2 linked regions of the Homo sapiens genome follow. The protein of the gene in region 1 purifies or fractionates together with the protein of each later gene. This does not show direct contact. Each region holds a gene or a part of one and is shown in the gene's direction. Other genes may lie near its edges.

Evidence for each region.
Region 2: the proteins of STX16 (region 1) and VPS50 purify together in Homo sapiens (pull-down; one study listed by IntAct). This does not show direct contact.

The regions. Positions count from the first base shown.
Region 1 is NC_000020.11:58,668,159-58,671,987, forward strand, and holds part of STX16 (syntaxin-16), read left to right. Parts: intron 1-1,132; coding exon 1,133-1,295; intron 1,296-2,353; coding exon 2,354-2,445; intron 2,446-2,995; coding exon 2,996-3,139; intron 3,140-3,829. UniProt on the Homo sapiens protein: SNARE involved in vesicular transport from the late endosomes to the trans-Golgi network.
Region 2 is NC_000007.14:93,291,225-93,295,053, forward strand, and holds part of VPS50 (syndetin), read left to right. Parts: intron 1-478; coding exon 479-611; intron 612-3,320; coding exon 3,321-3,412; intron 3,413-3,829.

The DNA.
Region 1 (3,829 bases):
AGCGAGCCTTCTCATGGCAATCTCAGAAACTAGAGTGTTACTCAGAATCAGTCTCCTGGAGTCATTTCCCAACCTGAAGTTCTCAGAGGGACCTCAAGAGGCCCTGAAGTCCTCCAGCTGTCAGCGTAGGTACCTGTGAGGCCTTGGAGGTATGGGGACTGTTTTTCAATTGTTGGCAGATAACTGCTGTGGACGGATTAAGTAAATATGAAATTTCAAACATTATCGAGTTCAATCATTTGATTTTAAAATGTATAACTAATATCGTATACTAGTGTTAAGAAATTTCAATGCTAAATTATAGTCCTCATAATTGAAAAAACAACTTAGTATCCTAGAAAAAATTTTTTATAAATATTAAATTTGATTAATTTTAAAATAATAGGACTAGTGTTGAAACCTCAGTGTTTACATTTTTTACTGAAGTCTCCTGGGTGCTAATTATCAGAGGAGTGTGGTGCTTTGAGAAAAGCCCTGGGGGGTTGGAATGTTGGAACCCTGGCTCTTAGCAGTTTAACAGTTACACGATTCTCATTTAATCCCTCTGACTCTAGTGTTCTCATCTGTAAAATGGGACTAATAATCATAGTACCATCCTCATAGGATGCTTGTTAGGGATTAAATGAGAGGAATGCAATAATAATATGATATATGATAATACAGGTTGAACATTCCTAATCTGAAATCCAAAATGCTCCAAAATTTGAAACTTTCTTTTGAGTGCCAATATGACACTCAAAGGAATGCTCATTGGAGCATTTTGGATTTCGAATTTTCAGATTGGGGTACTCAACTAGTAGGTATTCTGCAAATATTCCAAAATCTCCCGAAATTTGAAATCCTAAACATTGCCAATCCCAAGCATTTCGGATGAGGGATACTCAGCCTGTCTAACGTGATGATATGTGAGCAGCTGGGCACACAGCAGGCCCTACATAGCAGGAGCTGAAATCTAGTGAAATCTTTCTGTGTATATAAATGAAGCCACAGATTCCTTTTATCTGTTCACCTTTCTCTAAACCAGACTGAGTGAACAGAGCCTCTCACTTCTCACTCTGGCTTGTGATGTGGCAGTGTTAGCAGAGGGGCTTCTCTCCCAGGCTTGCCCTGAGCCTCGGGCTTGTTCTCTTAGCTCTTCCACAGGTGCCAGCGTGCCGTGCAGGCCCTGCCGAGCCGGGCCCGGGCCTGCTCCGAGCAGGAGGGGCGGCTGCTTGGGAACGTGGTGGCCTCGCTGGCGCAGGCCCTGCAGGAACTCTCCACCAGCTTCCGGCACGCACAGTCAGGCTACCTCAAACGTGAGTGCTGCCCGGGCCTAGTGAAGGGATTTTGAGTAAGAAAAGCACTTTATGTTTTCTTTTTTGCCACTATTTTTTCATTTAGTCCAGTACCTTTCATTGTTAGCTTTTGAACATGCTCATACCTTGTACAGTAAAGGGAAGCCTCCTCCCCATGTGAAACCCTGGCTTGGAATGAAGGCACAGCGTGGGGTACCGACCAAGGCTGGGGGAGGGCACCAAGATAGTTCAGCATCTCAGCAAACAAAATTTGTTTTGTGTCAAGCTGCAAGAATTTGAAAATCAACCAAGCACATTTTAAAAACCTGTTGTTTTCTGGATGTTGGGGTTTGGGAGAGCTGCTCTTCAATAGGTAAAAAGCAGTTGTTATTACTGAAAGCCACATATTTGCATAACAACCAAAGTGTTTGAGAGCACCTGAGAAAACCTCCCCAGGGTCCTTGAAACACTTCCTCTGCTGGCACCACAGGTTTCACCCAGCAGACCTTTTCTTCCCAAATAGTGCAAAGCCAGATTTCAGCTCTCTTCTCATTCTAATCACCCTGTAAACTGGGTTTTTTAAAATTGCCCTTGCAATCAATAAAGTCCCCACATACTCCAAAAAACCTAGTTCTCCCTCCCTCTGACAACTGGCATATTTGTATTTTAATTTTATTATTTCCAAAATTTGATTAGGGCCATATGGAATTCATACTAGAGATGCTTCTAGAGAGAAATACTGATTTTTTAAAATGTTTTGTAACAGCAGTTAGATTAAATATTTCTGCTTCACTTAGAGATTCTCAGATGGTTGTGTCATTTTTATCTTGGCATCAAGTGAATTGTGCACATTTACACTGTGACTTTTGTCTTGAGTAATCCCAAATGCCTGCATATTGTTGTATGTTTGTAATCCTTTACTCTCCCTCCACCCCCATTGGAGATAGGCTTCTTTAAAGCGGCTAAGAATATCTCAATTTTGACTGTTGGAGTTTACTCTAGAATTCCCCCTTTTAATGGTAGAACAATACTCAGGATGGTTTACATATTCAAGTAAAATGAATTCCTATCTGTGATAGGCATGAAGAATCGAGAGGAAAGATCCCAGCATTTTTTCGACACATCAGTACCACTAATGGATGATGGAGACGATAACACTCTTTACCATCGGGTACGTGAACGGGCTGCAAAGCTGATTGCTGTGTCTGTGCACCCCATTCTGCATCTTTCACCTCCTAGACCTCGATCTTCTGTGCAGTGTCAGTGGATTGATACAGTTGACTTGTATATTCATCAGGTTGTTTTGCAGCAGGTGGAAGAACAGCCGTACTGTTTCTTCCTTTCCAAAGGCCACAGGGAGACCTTGTAATCTGCTTTCCAGAGCCTTTGGGAAAGTGGTCAACACCCTGCCTTCTTAGGAAGAGCCCAGAGAAACAGAGGGCTATCCCGGGGGTTTTGTTTATCTGCCCTTGTGGAGTTGGCAGACGTGGGCTTCTGTCTTCCCTGCTATGGCCTCAGAGCTTTAGATCCTGCTGGTTTAGGGAATTTGAATCTTTCCTGTTAGGGAAAAATGAGTGCTTACTGTGCTTTGTAGAAATATTTTCAGAATTCATTTTCTTTAAATTATTTTCATTGTCTTTAAATTATATCTAAACAAGTATACCATAGCTTTCCTGAGAGGGAAAACAATCTATCCAACACATTGTGCACTGTCTTGCTAGGGTTTTACAGAGGACCAGTTAGTTCTGGTGGAGCAGAACACACTGATGGTGGAAGAGCGGGAACGAGAGATTCGCCAGATTGTACAGTCCATTTCTGACCTGAATGAAATATTCAGGGACTTAGGGGCGATGATTGTAGAACAGGTACGTGAGCTGGCCTTCCTCGTGAATAGGTTTTCCTGCCATACTATCTGTACCTTCTTTTTCCTGTACTCCTTTCAGGGAAAAAAATTGGAGCCAATTTTCCCAACATGTGTGTGCACCTGTCCTTTATGTGTGTGTGGGTGTGTGTGTGTGTGTGTGTGTGTGTGTGTGTGTGTATATTAATATTAATCAAATATTAAATTTGATTAATTTTAAAATAATAGGACTAGTGTTGAAACCTCAGTGTTTACATTTTTTACTGAAGTCTCCTGGGTGCTAATTATCAGAGGAGTGTGGTGCTTTGAGAAAAGCCCTGGGGGGTTGGAATGTTGGAACCCTGGCTCTTAGCAGTTTAACAGTTACATGATTCTCATTTAATCCCTCTGACTCTAGTGTTCTCATCTGTAAAATGGGACTAATAATCATAGTACCATCCTCATAGGATGCTTGTTAGGGATTAAATGAGAGGAATGCAATAATAATATGATATATGATAATACAGGTTGAACATTCCTAATCTGAAATCCAAAATGCTCCAAAATTTGAAACTTTTTTTTGAGTGCCAATATGACACTCAAAGGATATATATACATAGCAATCCTAATCAGAAAATATGAAGTTCAAAATGCTCCAGAATTCAAAACTTTTTGAGTGTTAACATGATGCCACAGGTGGAAAATCCCTACACAA
Region 2 (3,829 bases), on another chromosome or scaffold:
TATTCCATACGATTTTAAAAATTTAGAGATTGTCAAAGATGTTTACTTAATTTACACAAATGAAATGACAGAATTGTAAATCCAACCTTCTTTTTGCAAGAAGGCCTGAGGTCCAGGCTATGTAAAGCTGTATTTGCATGTTTAGGATCATGTCTTTCAAAAAATGCATTTGGGGATGTTTACACTGCTATTTATGGGACCAGTTGCTAATTCAGTAATTTCTTTATGGTTCTGTAACTACAGATTGATTCACAGCATATGGGCTGATATTCTTAATGTGTACGAAAAAGCCATGTTGAGATGGGAATTATTTAAAAATTTTTTTTCTCCCCATTGAATTTTCTCTTTAGATATGTCAGTTGAAGAAATTTTCTTGGTTATTTCTAATTTTTGAATATATTTGATTAATAACCTATTTTATTATAACTGTTAGAGTAAACATAATAATTTGAAAGTTGTCTCTTATCATTTTCTTTAGCATGTTACACCAGACAGCTATATTCCATGCCTTGCAGACCTGTGCAAAGCACTATGGGAAGTTATGCTCAGCTATTATAGGACTATGGAATGGCATGAAAAGCATGACAATGAGGATACTGCTTCAGCTTCTGGTAGGAAAATATTTTTATTTTATTTTAAAAATTGAACTATAAATATCCCACATTACTGGAGTAAGAAGAAAGGAAAGGGGCAGGAATGCCTTTGGGATTTCAAAGATTACAGTGACCATAGGCTAAATATTGAGCAAAGAAAGTGATTCAGCTACTTCAAATGTTCTATTACCTTTAGAGAGTAACTGGGCCAAAGGACTTTTTAAGTGGCACATAGTACTAGTTTCCAGAAGTGTGTGCTGATGGCTTTAGGACTGAATTTATAAATTTTTGTTGTTGTTAATATTATTAGTTGCAAACTAGATAAGACATTGGTCTGTCTAAGTTTACTGTGAAATTAATGCTAGATGGTCAATATTAATCTATTTAGCCAATTTTCAAGTTACAGTAATAAAGCTAGGTTCTAAGAATTAATTATATTGATACTTTCCTTCCTGAAAATGAAGCAAGACTAGAATTTCATTTTCAAAATGATGTTTTAAAATATTCATCTTTGAATGGAAAATATAACTTTAAATGACTGTGGTACAGTCAGCTAAATAATAAAGAATACGTCTTTGAAAAATTATTGTATTTATTAATCATTCTATTTAAATTGCTTCATTTGTATAATTATATATCTTAACTGATTATCCTTGAACAGTAGCTGAGATTGAATATTCAGAATACTTATAAAAACAGTAAATGATTTTATCAGCATTTTGTTTAATATGGATAAAATAAATTATACTGCACATCTTTTTTTTTGTATTATATACAATTTATTGTAGCTATTCAATCAAGTTACTTTAATAAACTTCCAGTTTCTGAGGGGCTTATTTTCTGTTGTTGGGTGAGTGGACAACACACCCAAATCTCACTGTTTGATTAAATGTTTTGGTAGTTTAGAAGGCATAGGTTTAATCTTTGTCTTGACTTACAAGAAGCTTGTAAATATAGAAAACAAAATAAGAGGAAAATTCCATGAATGGATTTTTATCCATTTGGAAATATTGTTGGGGAGAGTAAAGGAAGGGAGAGAAAGGCAGAGAGAAGGTTGGGCACACAGCCAGGATTCCAGGTCAGACTACTTTTACCCAAAACTTATACTTTTACCCTGTACTACCCCTGGGACCATGAGCTCTGCGATCTGAGAGGCCTGGCTTCAAGTTTTCACTTCTATTTACCAAAGGTGAGAACTTGAAGACACTGCTTATTTTTCCCATTCTTCAGTTTGCTCCTAAAATTGGTCAGTTAAAAAGCAAAGCAAAACCAAACCAAACCCTTAGAGTAGTAACGCATCTACCCTGCAGGGTTGTTGTAAAGTTTGGACAGCATGTAAGGTACTTATATTGGTGGTGGTTAATATGATGAAATGAAATGGATCAAGAGATAATATAATAATAGTGAAATACCTGGAGACTGTTAAGACATATTTGCTTTTCTAGTACATTATTTAAGGAGAAACCAAAGAAAACGTTTGGAATAGAATTAACACATATTTTAGATATCAGAATTTAGGTGACAGTTATGTATATATTCATCATGGTAAAGCTTGCTTTTTGCTTTAGGCCAATAGTTTACATTCGTTGGAATACTGAGTCAAAGTGAAAACTCTATCTGATCCTTATTACTCAACCCTCTTTGCCTAATCTGTATATTTTATGGATATTCAAGTGCTCAAGCTGTCAGCTGATAGTATCTAGGACTATAAAAAGTTACTTGTTCACCTGAAATTAATCCTTTTATATTCAGGAATAAAATTGTAGAAATTAGTAAATTGAAAATTACTTTTCATGGAACTTCATAAAACTGAAGAGGACTCTAGACTTTATCTGCTGTATCTCTTTAGTGATAATATTTGATACTGTTTGGTAACCTAATACTTTAACGTTCTAAGGTAAAGCTCTAAAGCTATAGTTCAGGTGCACTGCCTTAGGCTGCTGGATCCCTAACAGCCATACCATGGGTGTAATAATAAGGCTTACGTTTTAGGAGTGCTCAGAGGCAAACTTGTCATGCATCTGTGTATCTGAGGCCTGGCATTTCCAAGGACCTTTTACTGGTTATCAGTGGATAACTTCCCAACCTAAGACAAGATGATAACATACTCACTTAGTTGTTCTTCACAGGATATTCACACAAAAGTTTCATCTTTTTAATATAAATGTGTATGTGTCTTTTTCAGTTGTCTTTAGGGCGGAGATTGGAGGCAGATCACTGATCTTATCTATTAAACTAGACATTGTTAAATTATTTATCTGGAGTGGATAAAACTATTATTTATCATGAAAAATATAAAATATATGCATTATCACCTCACGCCTGAGTTTTAATGTAGACTATCCTCTTAGCACGCATATTAATTGATAATTCAGTTAATTGGTCCTGTAATGCCCTTCTCACAGCCTTTTACATGGTCTTGCAGTAGGCAGTATTGAGAACCTGGTCTCTGGGACCACACTGACTCAGGTAGAATCCCAACTCAGTCACATATGATCTCAGTGGTCTTAGGTATATTTAGCATTTCATAGTCTACGTTTATTTGTCTCACCAAATGGGTTTAAGTCTAATACCTATTGTTTGATATTGTTTTGATTGTATAAATATCAAACATATTTACTGTATCTTACATAGACTTACAATGTGTGAGAGGCCAAATAGAAATTATTTGGAAAACAAACACAAATTGGATTAAATCTAAAAATATATATTGTCTTTTATTTTCAGAAGGGAGTAATATGATAGGTACTGAAGAAACTAATTTTGATCGTGGCTACATAAAAAAGAAATTAGAACATGGACTTACACGAATATGGCAGGTTTGGTTTTTTTAAAATTATTTTTTTCACAGAAGCAATAGAAATGTCATGTCATAGTTTTAGAAATTCAGTTTTAAGTTTTCTATATATGTATTCTTTGCAGATTTAATCATATGTTTCTGTTTGGAATTAGGCTATCATTTAATTTCTGTAATGTATTTGGACTATAAGTGGCAGGAAAAAAGTTTTTTAATTTGAAAATCTCCACTGGAAATATTCATACATGTCTTGAGTACATCTTTTGTTTTAGAGGCCTAGCAAATTTCCACTATCATAGAGAAATGTATGCTTTCTCAGTGAGATGTTCTGTTTATTATTTCATTTATCTGTGTTTTCTTAATTTTTTTTTCTGTTAATTTTAGAAAAGGAGTAACTAAGTAGATAGCATACTTAGGTCAGATTATAGTTTAGAATGAA